4 linked regions of the Homo sapiens genome follow. The protein of the gene in region 2 interacts with the protein of the main gene of each other region in a pairwise test. Each region holds a gene or a part of one and is shown on either strand. Other genes may lie near its edges.

The links.
Region 1: the proteins of CDKL3 (region 2) and ZBTB43 interact in binary tests that used the Homo sapiens proteins (3 or more experiments, as listed by UniProt).
Region 3: the proteins of CDKL3 (region 2) and ATG4A interact in binary tests that used the Homo sapiens proteins (3 or more experiments, as listed by UniProt).
Region 4: the proteins of CDKL3 (region 2) and DNAAF6 interact in binary tests that used the Homo sapiens proteins (3 or more experiments, as listed by UniProt).

The regions. Positions count from the first base shown.
Region 1 is NC_000009.12:126,829,040-126,836,039, reverse strand, and holds part of ZBTB43 (zinc finger and BTB domain-containing protein 43), read right to left. Parts: intron 3,554-7,000; 5' UTR 3,531-3,553; coding exon 2,127-3,530; 3' UTR 1-2,126. UniProt on the Homo sapiens protein: May be involved in transcriptional regulation.
Region 2 is NC_000005.10:134,308,165-134,315,214, reverse strand, and holds part of CDKL3 (cyclin-dependent kinase-like 3), read left to right. Parts: intron 1-1,297; exon of another isoform or gene 1,298-1,804; intron 1,805-2,834; coding exon 2,835-2,923; intron 2,924-6,487; coding exon 6,488-6,641; intron 6,642-6,748; coding exon 6,749-7,050.
Region 3 is NC_000023.11:108,150,762-108,155,205, reverse strand, and holds the end of ATG4A (cysteine protease ATG4A), read right to left. Parts: intron 3,405-4,444; coding exon 3,348-3,404; intron 2,228-3,347; coding exon 2,119-2,227; intron 1,565-2,118; coding exon 1,494-1,564; 3' UTR 535-1,493; downstream 1-534. UniProt on the Homo sapiens protein: Cysteine protease that plays a key role in autophagy by mediating both proteolytic activation and delipidation of ATG8 family proteins.
Region 4 is NC_000023.11:107,209,582-107,216,631, reverse strand, and holds part of DNAAF6 (dynein axonemal assembly factor 6), read right to left. Parts: intron 3,760-7,050; 5' UTR 3,757-3,759; coding exon 3,604-3,756; intron 1-3,603. UniProt on the Homo sapiens protein: Plays a role in cytoplasmic pre-assembly of axonemal dynein.

The sequences.
Region 1 (7,000 bases), on a different chromosome or scaffold from region 2:
ACCATGGGAGAGGGTGATCAGTTTTTGGCAGAACAAAATGGCATCACCACCTTAGTACTGAAATTAGTAGGAGTAATAGAACAATTTCTCCTCAAATATAATGGCTAGGATCATACCTAAAACCCACTGGCCTCTACCATGAGTGAAAGAAAAGGAGACAATAGGCTTGATTGTACAATCCCCTCAGTATACGTGTGTCAGGTACACAGAGAAAAGACTGCTAACCAGTAACGTTTCAATACTAAGAGAAGCTATTAATGTGGCAAACAACCAAGAGGTAATATCTAGTTTCTAGGTTTAAAAAAAAACAATATATATATATATTTATAATAAAGTTTTAAATACAAAGTGCTTTTTATATATCGAGAATGATACAGTGTTGTGAATAAATCCCTGTTTGTAATCTTGCTTACAAGAGTTAACTGGTAAATAAGTATTTTCTTTCCTCTTTCCAGACAATGTTCAACAAGTAAACACCCTGGTGTTAGGAGCTTGAGAATCAGAGGCCATTGCCAGCAATGTCTATTACATTACAGCAAAGCCAAACTTTTCAAATAAAATTTCACCCCAAATCCAAGAAAAATTATTTTTATTTTAAGAAAAAAAAGTTTCTATTTAGAAGTAAATAACCCAGTACGATTGTGGAAAAGATGACATGGTAGTAGCACCCTGTCCTACCCTGGTGATAACCTCAGGTATGTTACACAGCTTAAAAGCATGTGCAATATTACCTTTCTTTTTAACCTAAATCATCTAACTGATGGGCAGAAAAGGTCTCAGAATAGTTGCTTTTCTTGTTTGTTTTTTTAATTTTTTTTTTCTGGTCGGCGTAGCTTTGTGGACTTTTAAGTTTAAGCAGCTTTATCTATAATGTGGGAGCATGGTTCTGTAGACTACCTTGCTAAACTTAGGACTCCTTTTACAAACACATTCCAGTGCTCATAAAGAACTGGTAGTATTAGCTCAGTGTACCCTCTAAAGAGTATCTCCCCCACCTTGAAAGAGTGTATTCTCAAGATTCTTCTTGGGCAGTTTTGTCCCCCTTAAGTATAACCACTCATAGAATCCTGCCTATCTGCCCTCTCACTCTGGTTGGTGGAGTGTCACCTTAGCACTCTATGAACTACTCAAGTTCACAGGGAACTCTCAGCCACAACTTGTGGCTCCTTCTCACTAAGTGTGGTCATGGACCACTCTCTTTGTAAAGCACCATAATCTAAGACAGAGCAGGGGCTGTGGCAGCCCGTGGTACCGTGGTCAGTCACAGCAGCTTGGTGTCTACCAGCCACAGAGAAGACCCCACTGTATGGAGGCTACAATTAACCAAACAGGATTTGGGAAAGCAAACCAATGAGAAATACCTATCTCTGGCACCCTAGAGAATTACAATTAGATAAAATTGTCCAAACTCAATGTTAGAACTAAAATACAAAACACTGCCTTATCAAGAGTCTGAAACACCTTGTGACAGTAGTGGCATCTTACAGAAACTGACAAGGGCACTATGTCAGCCTTGTACCGTAAATTATCTGTTTCATATTTAGAAAGTCACTCTCTTAGCATCTCCATAGTTTTAGTTAAAATATCCTTTAGAAAGACTAAAACCAGACAACAGAGCTCTGTTAACCAATTTCTCATCCTAGGAATCACATTATTTCTAGCTTTTATATAAGTAGCACTTCCTTCAGTGAAATAGCTACCAAAACAAATCCACATTACCTAAGTATCTATAGCAAGAGCAAAATAAAATTTCAGCATGACCTTGTAATAATGAGTGATCCAAAGCTGCTGCCACCCAAAATGGAACTGGTGGGTGGAGTCCAGTTCCAAGTGCAGGTGTCTCTGTCCACCTGTTTCGATCACAACCAGTCAGAAGGTTTCCCTTGCCAGCTGGGCGGTGGGTTAACTCACCCCATTACCCATTCCAGGCCAGGACTGGAACACACAAATTTGAGGAATTAGATTTTTTTAATTGGCCTACTTAGAGCTGGTCTTTCAGAAATATCTTCCTTTTTTTTTTTAAGCTTCTCTCATAATAGCAAGTAGCACGCATCATCTGTGCCCAGATTTGCATTAATTACCATAGTTTATTTTTGTGCATGCCACTCAAGGGCCAGATCCTATTTTTAGTTAGCCTCAGTTGTATTCTGCTCAGCCTTTGCAGCTTCGTAGGACTTAGTACAAGAAGTCACATGCCGGTGGAAACTGTCCCTCCACATAAACCTCTTTGCACAGATATTACACTCATACGGCTTTATGCCTGTGTGAATTTTCATGTGGCCCACGAGATGGTGCTTCATTTTGAATTTCTTACCGCAGACCCCACAGCCGTAAGGCCGAAGACCGAGGTGCATGCTCATGTGCCGATCTCTCTGACTCTTGTGAGTGAAACTTTTCCCACACTGACAAGGATACAGCTTGTCAGTGGCTGAGAATCCTAAGTGGGAAGCTTCTTCTTTAATCCCTGTTACCATTTCAATATTCTCACTGTAACCTGCTGCGAGGGCAGCCTCCTGTCTGTGCCCAATTAGATTCCCATCTGACCTCTCTCCGGAAAACTCTTCCATGGAAGAGCCATAGAAATCCACCTGCTCATCATAATTGCTTTCATCAGCCTGTTCATCAAACTCAGCTTCCACTTTCTTCTCCCCGATGTGGAAGTCCTCCTCCACTCCCGAAGGCTGCACCGTGTGCTCTGTCTGCACGGTGTTGATGGACTCTGTGACCTGGTGCTCGTCGTAGGTCGCGTGCACATCCATGCCCTCGCAAGCCTGTTCTAAGCGCTCGGGCTTCACGTGGATCCAGCGTTTGTGAGCCATGATGCTGGGCTTGCTGTACATGGGCCGGGTGTAGTGGAACTCGGCGCTGTCGCTGGCGCCCTCCTCCCCATCCTGGCTTGCCATTTCCGTGCTCAGGCGGTCATGCTCTGTGGACGAGTTGCTGGGCAGGTATTCGTGCTCGGTGAGCTGGGATGACAGCTCGTCTTTGGTGCTCTCCTCTTCATTTTCACCATCTCTCAGTTCTTGGGCTTTGGGAAAATCAGTATGACCCCCAGAGCCCAGCTCAAAGCTCTCTACCAGGCCATTATAACTACTGCTGCTTGGTGACTGGTGGTCACTGCCATGATTTAGCTTCTGACAAAGGACTGTAGGGTTTCCCTCTAAAACTTCAGTGCATTTGTCTACCACATGCCACATCTGGAGGAAGCTTGCCGCTGTCAAGTAACTAACAATTTCTGGAGCGGGCATTACTAGACGTCCTGTATAACTAGATAGGAGAATGTTCTCAAACACTCTTGGGTTCATCACATCAGGCAAAACAATTCTCCTGCTGTTTTTCAGGAGTACCTGGTCACAAAAGTAGGGTGAACTGGCAGCAAGAACGGCTTTGTGTGCCCGGAAAATGTGGCCTTGGACAACAATGGAGACGTCACATAATTGTCCTTGCTGGCGCTGCTGGTTCAGTTTCTGTAGAATGGTGCTGGAAAAATCAGGAAATTCTACCCGAAAAGAGTTTGTTCCAGGCTCCATTTCATCACAAATCTTGTTCGGTGCTACAAGAGAAAGAAAAATTAGTACAAATTCCAGCCCAAAGATAAACTTATTTTATCCCCTCCTCCATTGTTAAGACAAGTTCCAAAGTTCCACAAAGTCCTCTAGCCTATGGGCCCCACTGGGTAAGGGATTCAATCCCTAGAGCAAAGCTTGCAGGTGCGTGTTTGCCAAAGGCAGGACTCACCACCACTCCTTGTGGAACTCCTGATTTTGGTTCTGTGTCTGTGGGTAAGAGAACTGAATCCATAGGGACAAGATTTGTAAGCTATACAAATCTCCCAAGTAAAACCAAGTACTGTAAATATTTACAGTTAAAACAAACAAGATACCCATTCAAATAATATAATTTTTTTTTAAACGAGATGGGGTCTTGCTCTGTTGCCCAGGCTGGAGTGCAGTGGCACAATCATAGTTCACTGCAGCCTTGAACTCTTGGGTAATCAAGCTATCATCCTGCTTCAGCCTCCTGAGTAGCTGGGACTGTATGTACATGCCACCATGTCCAGCTAGTTTTTTTTTTTTTTTTTGAGATAGAGTTTTGCTCTTGTTGCCCAGGCTGGAGTGCAATGGTGTGATCTCGGCTCACTGCCACCTCCACCTTCTGGTTTCGAGCGATTCTCCTGCCTTGGCCTCCCAAGTAGCTGGGATTATAGGCGCCCGCCACTACACCTGGTTAATTTTTTTTTTTTGTATTTTTAGTAGAGATGGGGTTTCACTATGTTGGCCAGGCTGGTCTCGAACTCCTGACCGCATGATCCACCCACCTCAGCCTCCCAAAGTGCTGGGATTACAGGTGTGAGCCACCACGCCAGCTGCCCAGCTAGTTTTTTTAAAAAATTAATTTTTTTTGTAGAGACAGGGGTCTCACTTTTTGCCCAGGTTCGTCTTGAATTCCTGGCTTCAAGTGATCCACCAGCCTCAGCCTCCTAAAGTGTTGGGATTATAGGCATGAACCACCGCTCCTGGCAGAATTTTTTTTTAAAGAGATGAGGTCTCACTCTTTTACCCAGGCTGGAGTGTAGTGGCACCATCATAGCTACTGTAGTCTCAAACTCCTGGGCTCAGGTGATCCTCTCACCTCAGCCTCTTGTGTAGCTGGGTCTATGGGTATATACCACTATGCCCAGCTCAAAATGACAGAACTTTTAAGCCTCAGATTTAACTGATATTTGACAGGTTGTGGTGAGGGTGGGAGAACAGAATGGTGGGAACAAGGAAAAGCATACGCAAAGGCTCCGAGGCAGGAATGCATTTGGCAATTGCAAGGAACTGAAAGGAGACCATTAGACTAGAGTACAGTCAGGGAGTGAGGGGCCTGGGGGCTTGAGCAGTGAGGACGGGACAATTGCACCTCTGGTCTTTCAGCACTAAAGGGGCACAGTCACTCAGGCCCTGAGCAATGCAGATTTCTCCAGCTGCTGCCAGAATTTTAGCCCTTTAAGAGCTTCTGAGAATATGAAACTGAATGAAACTGCAAGGTGAGGTATGCTTCTTATCTGGTGATCTCCAAACTGTCTATAGACCAAAGAGGATAGTAAGTCCCTGCTACTGAACAGAGTCGATCAGAAGACAAAGTTATAACGAAGACTAAGGCATTGCCTGTGTTGCTACTGTAAATATATTCTGTGGGGTAAGTCAAGCATTAGAAACAATTCCTAACAATGGCACACAAGATGAGCTGTGCTAGAGATCCTGCCCATACTCTGTAATTCCCCCAAATTCTGTAATTAAAGCAAAAAAAAAAAAACCACCCAAACGATTTATTACTGCATATGTCACCTTGCTCTGATACTACATCCAAACATTGCTAAATTACCAAGTCTTCTTTTGTTTTTTTGAGACAGGGTCTCACTCTTGTCACCCAGGCTGGAGTACAGTGGTGTGATCACAGCTCACTGCAGTCTCAAACTCCTGGGCTCAGGTGATCCTCCCATCTCAGCCTCCTGAGTAGCTGGGACTTCAGGCATGCACTACTACCACATCCGGCTAATTTTTGTATTTTTTGCAGAGACAGGGTTTCGCCACGTTGTCCAGGCTGGTCTCGAATTCCTGAACTCAAGCGATCTGCCCGCCTGGCCTCCCAAAGTGCTGGAATGACAGGCGTGAGCCACTGCGCCCAGCCCCAAGTTTTCTAAGTATGATATAAAAGAGCCAGACAACCCAGACAAAGACTGAAAGTCATCTTCGAGGGATAGGGAGAGATGACAAGAGAAGAAATGAAGGTTTCTTGAGTAATTATGATATGTTAGGGACTGATACCTTTTTTCCCACTTAATCTTTATAATTACTCTGCAAATGTAGGGCTTGATCGTCTGAAGTTCAGCTATTTTAAGTAACTTTCCCAAGGTTAAAAGCTAGTTTTTATTAAGTTGAGATGTGAATCCAGGTCTGGATGACTCTAAAGTCTATGTGATTTTTCTTATCACATCACTCTGCCTCCTCTAAGATGCCAAAAATGCCAGATTAGGCACTAATAATTTTAAAAGACTGTGTTTTTAGAGTGAAGTATTAATTTATCGTTTTATACATCTTAAAACATTTCATAGTAATTTAAAACAAAAATAGATCATGAAATAAATGATTTAGGTATTCGTAATTTCAAAAAGAAAAGTTGACTATATAAATGAGTAGACTAAAAGTATGTAAATTCTGGAAACTACATCTGGGTGAACAGATTCTCTGCTAGATCTCACCACTGTAGAATTTTGCTTTTAGCTATTTGAAAAAGGGGGTGTGGGATATAACACATGCACATGTAAAAAAAAATTATAGAAAGGTGTAAAAAAAAAAAATCTCTCCCATCATTTATTCCTAGTCTCCCCCAAAGGAAATCACCATTAAACTCCTGTTTATATCTCTAGAAACTTCCCTGTGCATATATCAGAATAAATCATATACATCCTTTAAAAATCCCTACTCAACTGGGTTCATTACCTACATTTTATTCTACACTTAGCTTTTGTCACTTAATATATCTTGGAGATCTTCCCACATTAGCACAAAAAGAGCTAACTCATTCTGTTTAATGGCCACATAGCTTTCTATTATATGGATGTATCGTAATGTAAGCAGTTCTCCTCTTACAGAATTTCAGTTGGCAGGGGTTGTAAAATCACAAGCAATGCTACAATAGATATTTTTGCATAACTATCTTGCATACCTTTGGAAATATTTATAGCTTAATTTCTACCAGTGGAACTGCTGGGTTAAGGGGCTGTGCATTTGACATAGCCTTGAACTCTTGGGTCATCAAGCAATCCTTCTGCCTCAGCCTCTCAAGCAGCTGGGTCTATAGGCATGCCACCATGCCTGGCTAATGTTTTTAAAAAATTTTCTGATACATATTACCAAACTACTTGCCAGAAAGCCTGCACCAAGTCACACCCTCACCAACAATCAATGACAGTGTCTACTTAGCACACTCTTACAAGACTGGATATCATTTA
Region 2 (7,050 bases):
TAACAACTAGTATCATCCAATGATTTGGAATGCTACATTTATCATAGACAAAATGCTTATACATGTGTGGGTTTGTTTCTGTTCCATTGATTTTTCTCTTTATTCTAGAAGTAGTACAACTTTGATTTATTATTGTAACTTTAAAATACACTTTGATATCTGATGTAGGGCACATATTTTTCCTAGATATAAATTTTCTAAACAATGTTATTGAGGTATAATTTGTGGGCAGTAAACTATACATACTTAAAATGTACAATTTGAAGAGTTTTGATGCATGTATACACACATGAAACCACCACCACAATCAGGATACCTAACACACACACACACAAACACACACACGATACCTAACATTTCCATCACTCTCCAAAATTTCATTGTGTCCTTTTACAATTCATCTTTTCTTCCATTTCTGTCCCCAGATAACCACTGATTTGCTTTCTATTCCCATAGATTAGTTTGAATTTTCTAGAATCTTATATAAATAGAAGCATACAGTAGGCACTCTTTCATGTCTGGCTTCTTCCACTCAGCATAATGGTTTAGAGATTCATTCATGTTTTTGTATGTATCAGCAATTTGTTCCTTTTTTGCAGAGTAGTAGTTCATTATATGACTATACCACATTTTAAAAAATCCTTTCCCTGTTGATGGACATGTGGGTTATTTCCCACTTTTCGCTATTACAAATAAAGTTGCCATGAGAACATTCATGTTTGTCTTTGTATGGAACACACATTGTATTTTCATTCCTCCTGCAGAAATATCTAAGAACAGAATGGCTGGGTCATGGGTAGGCATATGTTTAATTTTTAAAGAAACTGCCAATCTGTTTCCCAAAGTGTCATGTTTTACATTTTCCAAAGTAGGGCATATATTTAAATTTACTGAATTATATTCACAGAAGGACTGCCTCTAATTGTCTGCCCCTATGATTTGGTCAGACCTTTTAGCATTTTTCTTATAAGTTTTAGTGATAGATTACCATTATATTCTAAAATGAGCACATATTTTTAACTAGTTGCAGGGTTTTTTTAATTTGTTTGTTTCGTTTTGTTTTGTTTTTGAGACGGAGCTTTGCTCTTCTTGCCCAGGCTGGAGTGCAATGGCGTGATCTTGGCTCACCGCAACCTCCTGTCTCCCGGGTTCAAGCAATTCTTCCGCCTTAGCCTCCGAGTGGCTGGGATTACAGGCATGTGCCACCACACCCGGCTAATTTTGTATTATTTTTTTTTTAGTGGGGACGGAGTTTCTCCATGTTGGTCAGGCTGGTCTCTAACTCCCAACCTCAGGTGATCCACCCTCTGTTGCCCCCCAAAGTGCTGGGATTACACGCATGAGCCACCACACCTGGCCAACTAGTTGCAGTCTTAAAGACCTAGGTATTGCCACATCATTAAGTAGGTAACAGACTTAAATAATTTCTCCTTGTGAATCAATGTTTTTTATTTTGGTAAAAAAAAAACCCCACATAACATGGAATCTACCTTCTTACAAAATTATTAAGTGTACAGTATGGCATTTTTAACTATATGCACATTATAGTACAGCAGATCTCTAGATTTTTTTCTGTGAATCAGTTTAAATATGCATTTTGAAATAAACAGAAACATAATATTATATACAATTATCTTGGATTTGCTGGATTTTAATTGTGGCTCCTCTACTTATGAGATCTTAAACAAATTACTTGATCTCTCTGGGCCTCAGTCTCCTCATCTGTATAATGAGGATAATAATAATACTTACTTTGTAGGATTGTTGTTGCGATGGAAGGAAGAAAAAGCTGGAGCGTTGTCTGGTATGTAGTAAGCATCAATAAAAGTTACTAGTCAGGCTTGGTGGCATGTGTCTGTAGTCTGAGCTACTCAAGAGGCTAAGGAAGGAGGATATCTTGAGCCAAGGAGTTCAAGGCTCCAGTGAGCTATAATTGCACCACTGCACTCCAGCCTGGGCGACAGAGTAAGAACCTGTCTCTAAAAAATTTTAAAAGGCCAAGCACAGTGGCTGTCTTCTGTAATTCCAGCACTTTGGGAGACTGAGGCGGGAGAATCGCTTGAACTCAAGAGTTCATCAGCCTTACAACATAACAAGACTCCCATCTCTACAAAAAAGTTAACTATTAATGTTTTACCTCCTTTCACAGGAGGAATGAAAATTATAAAGCAGATGCTTTTTATTGAAAACCTGTTTTCAGTATTTTGATTAAAGAAATGTGTTCCATTTATAATTATTGTTATTTAACTACATATAGATTTATTATGTACAACTTAACATTCAAAACTACCTTCCATATTTTGTTTGTTTGTTTCTATACCAAGAAAGGGAAACAGAAAAGAGCTGATTTAATAATGGGTTATTGAAAGATTTAGGGACTTGAATATTTGCAAAATGGTATTATGATATAGAAAGAGTGCTGGATTAGGCGTCAGACAACATGGGTTAAAACTCGTGTTTGGCAAACTACTAATCATGCTTCTAGATCTGTAAAATGCAAATGATTATCCATGAACTTTCCACCTGTCAGGGCAGAAAAGAGGATCAAAATGAGCTAATTAATTTTTGCTAATTTCAGCAGAAACAGACTGACCTCTGTTTTGGCTAGAATCATGGGACATTTAACCTATAATAATGTTTTGCAAGTGCAAATTCCTTAGGGAAATAAACAGCCAGAACTTACTACCAGAAGTTCCTGAGGTCTAATTCCATCTTTTCAAGAAGGCTTTTTGATCTGGATAATTACTTACTTCTTAATTTGTCAAATAAATTTAATTTTTACCATATGGAGCCCTGTTGAGAGCTCACTTATTAAAATCTTTTTCCTTTCCTAGGCTTGTTTACAAATTGATCCTGCTGACAGGATATCATCTAGTGATCTTTTGCATCATGAGTATTTTACTAGAGATGGATTTATTGAAAAGTAAGCATTTTGAGTGAATGTGGGTTTTTTAAAAGCATTTTGTATTGGGAAATTTTACTAGCAGGAAAATTGCTGTATAGGTTACTTTTATATAACAAATATTCAGTTTAACAAAAATTTATTGAGTTATTGTATCAGGTATTGACTAGGAAGACAGCAGACTTAACAAGTGTCACGAATGAAAAGCCTAATAATAGGATGGGCATAGTGGCTCACACCTGTAATCCCAGCACTTTGCGAAGCTGAGGCAGGCAGATTGCTTGAGCCCTGGAGTTCACGACCGGCCTGGGCAACATAGAGAGACCCCTGTCTCTACAAAAAATACAAAAATTAGCAAGGTGTGGTGGCACACGCTTGTAGTCCCAGCTACTCGGGAGGCTCAGGTGGGAGGATTGCTTAAACCCCAGAGGTGGAGGTTGCAGTGAGCTGAGATTGCACCACTGCACTCCAGCCTGGGTGACAGGTTGAGACCCTATCTCAAAAAAAGAAAAAGAAAGTCTAATAATAAAAAGTAATTGCAACTAACATTCGTTACACAGTTACCATGTCCTAGGCAGTGTGCTCTGCTCTTTACATACTACAGTTTCAGTGTCATCATAGACCAGAGATAACATTAAATAAGCAATCAATACTTCTTAGCTTTATTCCTGTTTGGACCTCTGACTCAGAGAATAGTCTGGTTTTTCCTCTTCTGATGACATTCATTTATCATAATTAGCATGCACTTCCCAAATGATTTTTTTTCTACTTATTCTCTGTTGCAGTGCTTGTTGTCTTTTTTTTTTTGAGATGAAGTCTCGCTTTGTTGCCCAGGCTGGAATGCAGTGGCACAATCTCGGCTGACTACAAACCTCCATCTCCCGGGTTCAAGCAATTCTCCTGCCTCAGGCTCCAGAGTAGCTAGGATTAGAGGCACATGCCACCACGCCTGGCTAATTTTTGTATTTTTAGTAGAGATGGGGATTTTGCCATTTTGGCCAGGCTGGTCTCAAACTCCTGACCTCAGGTGATCCACCCGCCTTGGCCTCCCGAAGTGTTGGGATTACAGGCATGAGCCATTGCGCCCGGCTGCAGTGCCTGTTGTTGTATCCTACCCATGAAATTGGAAGTTCCCTGAAGACAGGTGCCATGCTTCTTATGGCCCTTCTGTGCCCCACATTGCCTATGACATGCCCAGCATATAATCTGTATTACAATTTAGATTCATGAATCAGCCATATTTCTAAAAAAACACCATTTTCTATTTGGGCTTTGAAAGAAACAGGAAAAGTTTCTCATTAACTGTAAAACCATTCAGCTTGTCTTTGGACGTGACGTTAGAAAGATGGACATCCATTAAAAATGTGATGGAGCTAAGGTCAGATATGGAAGAGTCCAGGAACTGCTATTGGAGATAGACTAAATAGAAAAAAGCGAAGAGAATCCTTGAGGGTGACTAGAACTTTGCGCATTTCAGGAATTTTACTCTAAAACAAACAATAAGATGATATATTTAAAGTGCCATTGGCAAGGTGCTGCAGCTCATGTCTGTAATCCCAGCATTTTGGGAGGCCAAGGTGGGCAGATCAACTGAGGTCAGGAGTTCAAGACCAGCCTGGTCAACATGGTGAAACCCCATCTCTACTGAAAATGCAAAAACTTAGCTGGGCGTGGGCATGTGCCTGTAGTCCCAACTACTCAGGAGGCTGGGACAGGAGAGTCATTTGAACCCAGGAGGCTGAGGCTGCAGTGAGCTGAGATCACACCACTGCACTCCAGTCTGGGTGACAGAGCCAGACTCCGTCTCAAAAAATAAAAGAATAGGCCGGGCTTGGTGGCTCACACCTGTAATCCCAGCACTTTGGGAGGCCGAGGCGGGCAGATCACGAGGTCAGGAGATCAAGACCATCCTGACTAACGCGGTGAAACCCCGTCTCTACTAAAAATACAAAAAACAAAATTAGTTGGGTGTGGTGGCGGGCCCCTGTAATGCCAGCTACTCAGGAGGTTGAGGCAGGAGAATGGTGTGAACACGGGAGGCAGAGCTTGCAGTGAGTGGAGATCGTGCCACTGCACTCCATCCTGGGTGACAGAGCGAGACTCTGTCTCAAAAAATAATAATAAATAAATAAATATAATAAAAAATAAAATGAAGTGCCATTGATAAAAAGTGGCAGTTATTGGCTGGGCATGGTAGCTGATGCCTGTAATCCCAGCACTTTGGAAGGCCGAAGCAGGCGGATTGCTTGAACGTAGGAGTTCAAGACCAGCCTGGGCAACATGGCAAAACCCTGTCTCTACAAAAAATACAAAAATTATCTGGGTGTGTTGGTGTATACCTGTAGTCCCAGCTACTACGGAGGCTGAGGTAGGGGATTTCTTGAGCCCAGGAGGTCAGGGTTGCAGTGAGCCATGAGTGTGTCACTGCACTGCAGCCTGGGCAACAGAGAGAGACCGTGTCTGAAAAGAAAAGATGCCAGTTATTGAATTAAGAGGTTGCTTCATATCACTTCTACACAGACGAAGTTTATTTTTCTTGGACATTTAGATATTAGGCTTCTATTATTGTGGGGTGAAAGTACCTTGAGTTCAATTTATAGAATCCTCAGAAGAGTGGGCTGGACTAGGGAAGAATTCATTCATGGGCTGATGTTTTAAAACCTTCCCAAACTGATAGCTGTAGCTGCTTCAAGGAGGGGACTTGTGCAGTTCAGGGAAGGGGTGGGAAGGAAACTTTTCAGTATGGACTTTTGAACTTTGAACCACATGAATGGACTTTCTAATCAAAAATAACTTTTAAAAAGAAAGAAATCAAACTAAAACCAAAATAATCTCTCTCCAATATGAAGGTATTCTGTTACATTTCTCTAGAGTAAGATTTTAGAAGTTAGTTAGTTCATTTTTAAAGTTCTATTACTTTAAAGAACCACAGCTGGGTGCAGTGGCTGACGCTTGTAATCCCAGCAACTTTGGGAGGACGAGGCAGGTGGATCACCTGAGATTGGGAGTTGGAGACCAGCCTGACCAACATGGAGAAACCGCGTCTCTACTAAAAATACAAAATTAGCTGGGTGTGGTGGCACATGCCTGTAATCCCAGCTACTCAGGAGGCTGAGGCAGAATCGCTTGAACCCAGGAGGTGAAAGTTGTGGCGAGATGAGATTGTGCCATTGCACTCATGCCTGGGCAACAAGAGCGAAACTCCATCTCAAAAAAAAAAGAAGAACCACAGAAAAGGTCAAAGTGGTCTGAGTCTTCCTTAAAAATAACAGTATCTTTATCAAAATTAAAAGCAATATTTTTCTGAGTAAAGTTTGCATCGCAGAAGGAATCTAATTAGTATAAATCTATTTTGTAAAAGTTTTATATAGTAGGTTCCCATAGCATAATTTTCGAAAGATGTATCTTTAGAAGAAAGCAATTTTTATTAGGTAAATGTTGGGCCATCTCTTGACATGCATTATAGTTAGCATTATTTATGCTGTAGCTGAAATGTACATTAATTGATGAAATGGTTTATTCAAGATAAAATACTCCATCTGCATATATAAAAAGATTACTCGTTGATATTGCTTGTTTTGTCAGATTCATGCCAGAACTGAAAGCTAAATTACTGCAGGAAGCAAAAGTCAATTCATTAATAAAGCCAAAAGAGAGTTCTAAAGAAAATGAACTCAGGAAAGATGAAAGAAAAACAGTTTATACCAATACACTGCTAAGTAGTTCAGTTTTGGGAAAGGTAAGAACTTTGGTTTTTGTTTCAGCCAGTATAATTATATTATAGTTAGACTCTAATGACAAAAATAACTGTTATGATGACTCAGATTTTGGATGTATCTATTCCAGGAAATAGAAAAAGAGAAAAAGCCCAAGGAGATCAAAGTCAGAGTTATTAAAGTCAAAGGAGGAAGAGGAGATATCTCAGAACCAAAAAAGAAAGAGTATGAAGGTGGACTTGGTCAACAGGATGCAAATGAAAATGTTCATCCTATGTCTCCAGATACAAAACTTGTAACCATTGAACCACCAAACCCTATCAATCCCAGCACTAACTGTAATGGCTTGAAAGAAAATCCACATTGCGGAGGTTCTGTGACAATGCCACCCATCAATCTAACTAACAGTAATTTGATGGCTGCAAATCTCAG
Region 3 (4,444 bases), on a different chromosome or scaffold from region 2:
TCCAAGCTGTGTGTGTATGAGTGTGTGTGTGTATATGTGTGTGTGTGTGTGCATATATTTATATATGTATAAAATATATCCTCTGAGAGGATAAACAAGAAATTAATACCATTGGGAATTTCCAAGGGAGGGAACTGACCTATCGGAGAGAGAGACAAGTCACTGAATATCATTTTACATCTTTTGAATTTTGAACCATTGGAATATACGGGGGGAAAAAGAAAAACATGGAATCTAAGGAAACAAGCAGATTGGTTTGGTGCTAGCTTCCAGTTGCTGGCCTTCCTCGGGACTTGATTAAGGATGGGGGTGAAATGCAGGCAAGTTAAGGAAGCAAGAAAAGGAAAATGAGAAGGTACTGCTGGGGCTTGAGGTTCATCCTCACAGGAAAGTGGTTAGCAAAGCTAATTTGATGAATACATGCTTTAAAACCTATTATGTTGCTAGCCTCAAATGGTTTGGAATTGTATATGATGCACAGATAAAATGTGTAATTCACCACATGAATAATTCTAAATATGGCTGTCAACCAAGTAGGGTATACTTCAAACACAATTTATTTTTAATTTATCAAACAAAAATCAACAATTTAAGTCACTGATTGGCAAGCTACAGCCTGCAGGCCAAACCCAGCCCTCCACCTGCTTTTGTAAATAAAGTTTTCTTGGATTACAGCCACACTCATTTACACGCATATTGTCTATTGCTGCTTTTGCATGTCAACAGCAGAGTTGAGTAGATGTGACAGAGGCCGCATGGCCTGCAAAGCCCAAAATATTTCCCGTCTGGCCCTTTACAGAAAAAGTTTGCTGACCCCTGATTTAAGTGATCATGATTTAAGGACAGGGTGATATCTGACAAAAGTATCAGTAAGAATGGGGACAGTGACCCATCAAATAGTAAGATCCCCGCAAACAGAAGGGAGATCAAGAAGTGTATATTTGACATCGTTTCTTTGACAAACGTTTTGATATAAATTATAATTACTTCAACTACACAATCAAATAATTTAACAAGAACCTTTTCCTCCCTGATTCAGTCACTTTATTATTTGAGCAAGAGAACAGATTGCTGCTTAGTCCAAAAGAGGTCACATCTGAAAGGGTGAAGAACAGCTTAACCATCTCTTATCTGCTGGTTCTTGAAGCAAGCTGAGAGTTGCTGTTTGTCTTCCAGATGCCCATTTCCTCATTGCAGCAGCTGAAGACTTGCTGTAGCCATATAACACAAGCTGGGAAGCAATGAACTCCTCCTCATCTCTCTGCTCCTAGGCTCCATGATTGTTCTATTTCTTTCCGGGGAAGGGTTACTGTCATTTGTTTTGTTTTGTTTTGTTTTTCTGAGAAACAGTGATTGGCTCAGTCATGATTGCTATTGAGTTTGTATGCTATTGGCATATCAGGCACTTGCTGACTAGAAAAGTTTTATGCAATAAGTTCATGTTTTTATGGTGCCAGATGGAAGACAGACCTTCAAGTTGAGTTCCCAGGATTCTACACACTCAGAATCTCAAAATCTTCCTCCAGATCAAACTCCTCCAGTTGCTCAGTAGAGTCAATGAATTCTATCAGAATACGGAAATGAGAAAGAAGAAAAGCTTGACACTTGGGTTGAAGTGGTCAGTAAATACTTTACTCAGTAGTTAAGACTAAGCATTTTTAATTGCTGTACTAAAGAAAGACTTGTGTGGAGGAGACTTACAATTAGAACTACTGCCAAGTATTAGAAATTATCTATAAAGACTCAAAATAGCCAGACTTGTTACATAAACCTAACGACGGTGATGTGGCCAAGGCTCTGAAAGCCCTTCAAGATACCTTTGAATTATCGATGGCCTCAATTTGCTATTCTGAACCAGACCATGAAAAAGCAATCCTAGTCATCTTGATTTTGCATAGAACTTTTGCAATGAGCTCATTTTCTTCTATTATCATTCTTTGAAATTGGTAAATATCAGCTCATCAGAAGATTAAAATAACCAGAAGTGCCATTTTTTTATCACTCCAGCTGAGTAGAAATTTTACTGTCCACAGAAAGCATGGGCCACAATTCTTCTTTCTCATAAAACAACTGCTATATGTGGGTCTGCTAGCTGAGAGCCATTGAACAACAGCTTACCTGCCCCAGTGGTTGTCACTTCTGGCTTGGCTGGAGGTACAAAGGGAGGCCAGTGTGATGGATGTTTCTGAACTAATTCAAACATCCTTAAATTCTCCTTTAGAATTTCCTGGGGAGATGACAAAACAGTTTTAAATACTTCAGAGTCACAACATTTCTAATTGGCAATCTTTGACCCCAAACCCTGAGACAGTGGTCTGCTGGTTTCCAGGTGAAAACAGGGGCCTAGAAAATACATGCATCCTCTACTTGAACCATCTGAAGACTCAGCCATCTTCAATTCTAGATACTGTTTAGCCAGGAAGGAAGGACTTTGCGGGGAGTATCTGATGAAGGCCAGCACTCACTGCCTATTCTCCATCATGAGGCATAGTGCCTGTGCCAGACGCATGGGTCCAGCTCACTTTAGGGGTGACATGTTCCTGAAGCACTGGCTCCAAAGAAATGTCAGTTAGTGAAATTAAATCTGCCCCAAGAGACTATTGCTACATATTGGCATGGTTTCAGTGGCAGTCCAACATGTATGGTATATATCCTAATTTACATGGCATAGTCTTAGCTGGGCACGGTGACTCATGCCTGTAATCCCAGCACTTTGGGAGGCCGAGGTGGGCAGATCACCTGTGGTCAGTTCAAGACCAGCCTGGCCAATGTGGTGAAACCCTGTCTCTACTAAAAATACAAAAATTAGCTGGGCGTGGTGGTGGGCGCCTGTAATCCCAGCTACTCGGGAGGCTGAGGGAGGAGAATCGCTTGAACCTGGAGACGGAGGTTGCAGTGCACCCAGATCCCGCCACTGCACTCCAGCCTGGGTGACGGAGCGAGCCTTTGTCTCAAAAAATAATAAAATAAAATAAAAGGCATAGTCTTATCAGAAAATTCTCATTCCACCTTTAAATGTGACATAAATACAGTTTTGCTGCATTCTAAAATGTAAGTATTGCCTTTAGAAAATAATTGTCTATTAATGAGATAAAACATTAGGTTTCATCACTAAAAATATCACTCCCTTGACATGCTAAGCATATTTCAAACCAAAATTTTTGTTCAGTTTCCCCGAAGTTATGCACAATTCCCCACACCTGATAGTTTCTTTGTTGCCTTAGTTTCTTTCTCTTGCAGTAAAGTCGTATCAGAGTAGGATTTTTTTTTACTATGAAAAACAATCTTGAAAAGGAATAAAATTGGGTAACTTCATTTTTCAGACTAAGAAAAACATATAGCTTTACCTTCTGAACAAGGCTACACCAGTTATCAAAGTCTTTTTCTTCTTTGCAGAAAAATCCCTTGGGGGAAAGCAAAAGAACACAACTTAGAATTACCTTTGGTATTGCACAATGGAGCTGTTGGCCCAGAATTAGGATGTGGGCCAGTCTCTGTGGATGTGACTTCTCAGCAATAAAGAAGGAAGACTGCCTGGGCTTCTCTCTCTCCTAACTCATTGCCTTACTCAGACATACATATCACTCTCTCAGTCTTGCTCTCATTCTCACCCTTGCTCTCTGTCCCTTTCCCTCTTTCCTCATGCTGCGAGATATTTTAACTTGAAGATCATCTTCAAAGTGTAGGGTTAATTCCATTACTTTCAGTGTACAAATACACACATCTCCAAAGAACATTCAATTAAGCCAACAAACAAAAGCCAAATGGTACTTTTAGCTAGAGGCAATACTTAAGAAGATGGCATTGACCTTCAGGAAATTATCTATCAGAATAGAGAGAACCATCAGTCTGTGCTTTCTCAACCTCAAATCCATCCCAGAGTAGTGAAAGAATGGTTCACAAGAGGAGGACTTGCAGCTCCTGGTCACTGGTATACTGACAATTGGATTAAACTAGAGGAGAGGATGCAGACAGGCCTCAGAACCACCAGCTACTTCACAGGCAGATGCCCCTTCAGTGTGTGTAGACACCAGCCATACTTCTGGGGGAAAATCCTGCAGCTTCCTAGATTGTGTGCACCCAGGGCATCTTGCTCCCTTATCTCTCCCTAGTGATATCCCATCTTCCTCCCTGTGCCTGGGTAGCAATAATTTGAGGACAAGAAGGAAACAGGGGAAAGAGTAACTAACATTTATAGAATGCTTACAATGTGCCAGGCCCAGTGCTAAGTGCCTTACATGCATTGCACCTCATACAACCCCATAAGGAACGAACTATTGTTTTCCTCATTTTAGAGATGAGAAGACTGAGGCTCAGAAAGATTAAGTGACTCCTCCTAAGTGCGTAGTTAGTGATACGGTTTGGTGGTGTCCTCACCCAAATCTCATCTTGAATTGTAATAATCCCCACGTGTCAAGGGTGGGACCAGGTAGAGATAACTGAA
Region 4 (7,050 bases), on a different chromosome or scaffold from region 2:
CTTGTATAACCTATATGACTAGTGATACTTTAAATTTGATAGGATTTCCATAAAAAAACTCATGGAGCTTTCCACTTTAATTACCCATCATTGTTATAAAACAGAAAGACAGATGTCAAGTACTATTTCGAATATGCTTTCCTTGTTCTTTCAAAAAGTGTTTGGTTTAATAGACTCAAGAGCAGAATTGATCTTTAGTCAGGCTAAAACCCTAGTTCCAGCTCAGTGAATCATGTATCCCTGGGGATAGAGGAACGAGCCACATTCATCTCTATGAAGGTTAGAACCAAGTATTAGTATAAAGGCATTGACACTTTTGGGGTTTAGCAGTGTCTGGTTGTAGTCAGATGGAGGACAGAGTATGTGAAAGTTTTATAGAAATAAAAACTAACACTAAGCAGAAGCTAAGTATTCAGACTTCAGATTAATCATTCAAAAGCCCTGATAACTGCTTTTACTTTTTTCCACTATAGGTATGAAACACTTCCCTGTCCCACCGCCTCATGACACTGAACTAGTGGATTTAAACAGCAACCACAAATTAATAGTCTCTAATACATGCTGATGTACTTCAGTCTTCATAACTTCATAAGTTTATTTTTCCATCTTCTGCACAAGCATACACATCCCCAAAGGACTTGCCCTGACTCACCAATACAAGCAATCTTCATTTTTTTCAACTAAGTATAACACATAGCGACACCACCTCATTGGCCCGTCTCAGGGATTCTTTGATATTTCAAGAAAATCCCAATTTCTTACCAATTGTTTTTTGCTGATGACAGACCCTGCAGCTCCAACTCACTCCACTGCTGGCAGTCAAAAAATTCTTATCTCCTTGCCTACTGGCCAACTAGCACCTCTATCTCTCTTTTCTCAGGCCCCTGTCCTCATCTCCTAAGACTTTAGACATGTACAAAAGTTAGAATGTCTTGTTTGGGCAAGGAGAGTAGTGTCTGTTCTTGAAAGCTGATGGAACAGCTCACGTGGGTCTTTATTATGTGAAACTATTCCAAGAGTTATAAATCAGAAATTAATCTATAATCTCTCAACAGTGTCTGAGACAGTAACTATTCCTTTCCAAAAGGTGTTTCAAAAGTGCTATGTCTGCGGTTAAGGCATTACAGGCATTTTTATGTGAAAATCCCAAGATAATATTTGGGACATTTTTTTCCCTCTTTTTTAATCACTAATGTCATGTAAATGTGTAGTACTTTTCTTAAATTATTAATCATCAGAACACTAATAGTCAGAGTAAAGCATTTCTCAGAACATGAGGGCCTCTTGTTTAGTTGAGTGCTGCCTTCCACAGAAAATTAAAAGCAGTAGAAGTAAAACCTTGGACATTCTTGACAAAAATTGGTATACTTTCCATGGACAGTGATTGGCTCAGAACACATGGGAGTTTCAATTTATTAATTTAATGAAAATAAATGATTAAAAATAAAATTTTCAAGTTAAAAGATGGAATGGGATCATAAAAACATTAAAAACCATCTGGCAATTGTTTTCTATTAGAACATCATTTGAGCCTTTACCATGAATCTACAGCCAATTATCTGAGCAATTTATCACTGCAATTCATGCCACTTTGTAATATGTAAGACAGAACATCCTCGTTATAATGTCTGTGAAGAGCAGTGAACCTTATTTCCCACAGGCCTTAAGATCCCCTCATGGCTTTGAAAAATGACAGACACACTCTCTCCTCAATCTCCCAGATTCTTAACAAGTCATATAGAAAAGGGATAGTGTAAATGAAGCAATGTGTATGCAACTGTTCTCTTGCTGTTTTCAGAGAGCATATTTTCAAAAACACATCACTCTTGTAATCATCCCACAGTTCCCAAGATTAATACATGTTAAAAAATGAAAAGCAGTTTCTCTCCTGGAAAATGTAATAGTTCATTAGAAACATTAATTATTCTCCCACTGTTCTGATACTGTATGTCCTCTAATGATATCTGTACTGTGGTGTCTGAATGACCAATTATCTCAAAATTGTTTATAACCCAGATATACAGAATCATACATTATTATAGTAATTTTCCTTTATAAACTGTACAACTCAGTAATATTATGTTAGTCTATTCTCATAAGCACTCATCTTTTCTCCTAGAAACACCTCTAGATGCAAATAAACACCTCCAGCCATAAACACCAAATGGAATAGGCTCTGTAACCAGGGTAAATCCTTATATTTGAATCTGTCCCAGTTACAAGTTCCACTTCACTATATTCAAGGTCACTGTTTCTCAAATACTTGATATACTTTTTCTATATGGCATAACCTTACCTTTCCTAGGATGTAGGCTCCAGAAAATTATTATTCTGCTACTCAACTAAGGTAGCAAAAATGAGCTTGCCTTCCCAACTTCATTGATACATTGTTCCTAACTTTTTCTCCTGTATCCTGTTTGTTGTGTATAGCTAATGCTGTCATTAACATCCTGATGTTTCTTTGTTTAGCCTCTACTAAGACTTTTCCCTGACTAAAACTTCCTGGTTCCTGATCCTGGCTCCAAGCTGACTCAGTTCTTCTACAAATGTTATTCCCATTTCACATCTTATTTATTCTGCCCTATTCCACCTAAGCTCTTCCTTAGGGTGGTAGCTCAGTTCAGTGTCAATCTGAGCCACTGAATTTGCTGCCTGTTCATAGCTTGCTTTTTTCTCCACATTGTGGCAAAAATAAATTTTGGGAGGAGTAAATTGATATGTACGTTTGTGAAAGATGATTTATTCATGATAAATTGGTCATATAACAAAACACTTCATTAAAATAATTTTATGCAAATTGACAGATTCTGTTATGATATGGGATTTTTTGCCCCAAATTTTGTTTGCCCTATCATAGGCAGTCTGATAGCCAAGGCTCACCGATAGTTAAGAAATAGGAGAATGGAGAGCAGGGAGTTATATAAAAGTGTTTTAATTGTTCTGGGAATACTGGCAGTAACCTTGGAGTGGTCAAAGGTCAGTTCAATGAACTCTTCTACCCAAAATGAAGCCCATCTTGCTACTGCAAGCCTTGCTGGCATTACCTATCTTGACCCCAAATGCTACTCAACTAATTAGACTCCACAACTTTATTTGTGCATTACTGGGAAGCCAATTTTGGTAGGCTGAAACTAGTTTGCCCTATTATTTGGCTCAAAAACTTTCTGTTCTGCGTTAATGTGTAGACAAATTAAAAAATTAAGGGACTGGTACTTGGTGGTCCAATTAATACTGTATAACTGAAAATATTTGTTTTATAGAAATATTGCCTAGGCTTAAACAATCCTAGCTACCACTCTGCAATGGTTGTCAAGCATTCTTTGGCTATAAATATAAATGACAACATTTTGAGATGTGGCTATTGCTACCACAGTTACAGAACTATTTTCCTATTCAGTGTTCAGGTGGTTTAGAAAAATATAATTATCTTTGCTAGAAATGTACTACAGGTTACATTGTCATGCATAATCAGCCTTGTAGCTTCCTGTGAATGTATCAAATGACACAGCTCTGTTCCCACAGCTAGGTGGGAACAGGTTATTCAAATACAGTTCCACAACTTCCCATGAACAAAACTAATTCAACTGTTAAGTATATGACCACCTGTCCATAGTCAGAATCATCCTCTTCTTCAGGATTAAGTAGCTTAGAGAGGGCTTCCAGAGCTGTAACTGAAGAAACACTCTCAAAGTCTACATTTTGAGATTCCATATTTTCTGTCTTCATATTTTCAGAATCCATATTTTCAGATTCCATTATCTGAAGAAAAAGATAATCAGAAAGAGGTATTTTACTTTTCTGTTTTATTTAAGACATGAAGATGTTTTATTGTCATATCTCCCTTCTTTCCCTGGATCACTCCATTGGTTCTTATACTTCCTTGGAAATCCTTTTAAACTCCTTCAAATATATGTATTTTGCTAACTCACAGACCTGGAGCACCAAGTAAACTCAAACATTCAGCCTGCTTTACTAAAATGTCATACTCAAGCTAACAAGCACTTATTGAGCACCTAGTATAGTGGTTCTCGGGTTTTAATGTGCTTAATAATCACTTGGGGGAGTTGGTTTAAAATGCAGATTCTTAAGCCCTACCTCTAGAAAAAGTGTATGATACATTATGTATCATCATTTGGGAACATATTTTTTAGACATGAGCAGTGCTTCAGGGCAGAAAGGTTGAAGTCATGGTTACAGGGAGACCTATTTAAAGTGAAGAAGGACGCTGGCCTATAGAAGGTGGGGTACAGTTCTTGAGGTTTGTGCACAAGTTGACTACTAGAGATGAAGGTTCAGAATAGGGCAGAATAGGGCTCAAAGTTCCAGCTGGAAAAGAGAAAACAAACCAGGCACTGTGTCGGTGGCTTTCTCGTGTCACCTAGGTACCCACAGTGGAGGTTATGAAGGAATGTTATGGTTCCTTTGGTACATTGGATACTGGATTCAGAAAAACCAGATTAATTCTGAATCCCTACCAGTTATTTGGAAAGGAACTCTGGCCTGGTTCTCATTAGGTGGGAAGTAGGCCAGTGTGAGCAGTGGGAAGCTATACCTGTAGATTTAGTGTCTTTAATAACTGCAGCTGGCACATAGTCAGCAGTTGATTAATACCAAATGAAGCATGACTAAATTCATCTGAATGTTATATTTCAAAATAGTCATTTGGAAGGTTATACACTGATGTAAATTATGCTATCAATGCTCAAAATATTTTGGGATTTTTCTTTTTATTTGGAATTGCCTTCATATGTATCACCAAGAAAATAGGTATCATTATGGTATCATTATGGTATCATTTGGTTTGATTACACATCAGATTTGTCGCCAAGTGATTTCTAGATATATTTAGATATCATGTCTACTTTCAAAATATGAAGATTTTCTTCTTTGAGGATATTCAAAAGAATGTGCTACATGCCTCAAGGTGATTCTAAAACAGAAGTTTCAAAAGCAATTTTAGCAATAACAACAACATTAGAGTAAATAGATTAGTCTCCTAAAGTGACTACTTCGAAGGGGATGGTCCTCCTTGGAACGTGTACACTTGTTTTTGTTAAATTATTCACAATAATTCTTAGTAACACTTTATATATCTGAAGCATATTAGGAGTTAGACTTCTTAAAGTACAATTGGACTTCCAAATTATGCTGGAATAAAATGCCATAGATTTGCACTATAGCTCAATTAAAATAGAAATATAATAATAAAATTACCACTTTAGCCAAAATATTTTTGCCATATCAAATGTAATAATAATCTGTAAACACAAATTAATAAATCATGACAACAAAAATAAATAAATCAATCATGACAAGTTTGTTGATATTGTATTTTGATAAACAAAAGAATCCCAAATATTTTGTGACTAACTAGTTAAATGGTTCAAAGTATCAAAAGAGAAAAACAGTTTGTGAATTTTTAGAAAAAAACATTCAAAATTCAATGGAAAGGAAGATTCTACTAGCTTTTTAAGAAGTCTAACATATTTAGAATAACTTATTCAACTTTATTAAAAAACATTTATTAAAATTCATTTGACACAAGTGGATCACAGCTGAAAAACTAAAACAGGAGGACTTTTTAGGAACTACAAAGAACTATTTGTAGGGAACTATCTTCACTACAATGAACTATGCAGTGTTAGTTTATAGCTCTATCTTTTATTTCTAAATGTGATATACATTTAAGTTCATCCTGAGTCTGGCAATCAAGGTCCTTCAGGATATAGTCCCAACGTAATTTTCTGTCCTTCCCTTCTATTATTCTCCTACATATTCTGTTAAAAACTAAACTGCTTATTAAACATACTCTATAATTTCCTGCCTTTGTACCTTGGAGTGCATTCTTCCTTTTGCCCTGACTTATTGGATAGTACAGTGTAGCGATTTTTAAAAAGAAGATTCTGGCCGGGTATGGTGGCTGACTGACGTCTGTAATGCAAACACTTTGAGAGGCCAAGGTGAGCTCACGGGTCACGTGAGCTCAGGAGTTCGAGATCAGCCTGAGCAACATAGCGAAACCCCGACTCTACAAAAAATACAAAAATTAGACGGGCGCGGTGGTGTGCCCCTGTGGTCCCATCTACTCAGGGGCCCGAGGCAGGATGATTGCTTGAGTCCCAGAGATGGAAGTTGCAGTGAGCCCAGATCGGGCCACTGCATTCCAGCCTGGGAGACAGAGTGAGATCCTGTTTCAAAAATAAATAAATAAATAAAATAATAACAATAAAAAATGAAAAAGAAGATTCTGGAGCCACACTGCCTAAAATGTTTGAATCTGGCACTGTCACTTAAATAGGCCAAGAATAAACTTAAAGTAAGGAAAATTTAAGAGTTTCAGTAAAAACAAAATATATTACTGTCTTTTATTTGAGATTTGTATTTAGAAAATAAATTTTTTAGGCCCTTTGTTTTTCTTTCTCTCCTTCTCTTTTGCTAGGCCAATGCTAATGGCAACATTTTCCAGACAGAGCCTTTGATTTTCCCACATTAACCTGAGTACTTGGGGTCTTCATAAATAGAGGCATGATTGGACCATCTACTAGCCACAATGAGCTAAAGCAACTGACACTCCAGAACCAGCTCATTACCATAACACTGGAGCCAGTCAGGGGCTGAAAAAGTTCAACCAGATTGGCTCCAGACCCACAGCACTTAAGCAACATCAGTAACCTTGAGTTAAAGTCAGACTGGTTCTAAGGCTGGGATCATGCTTTCTATTTTATTTGTCTCCTTCACAGTATCAATAAAGATGGCTTTTGACATCAGTTAATTGTAGAAAAGTCTAGGTTAAATTAGTGAAAACTCTGAATTACAGACTATTCAAATAGATAATAGATTTTATTAATTCAAGTATATATGGTAAATAAAATCAGGGTGATAAAGAACCACCAAGCAGGGCTGGGCGCAGTGGTTCACGTCTGTAATCCCAGCACTTTGGGAGGCTAAGGTGGGTGGATCACCTGAGGTCAGAAGTTCAAGATCAGCCTGGCCAACATGGCGATACCCCGACTCTACTAAAAAACACAAAAATTAGCCGGGCATGATGGC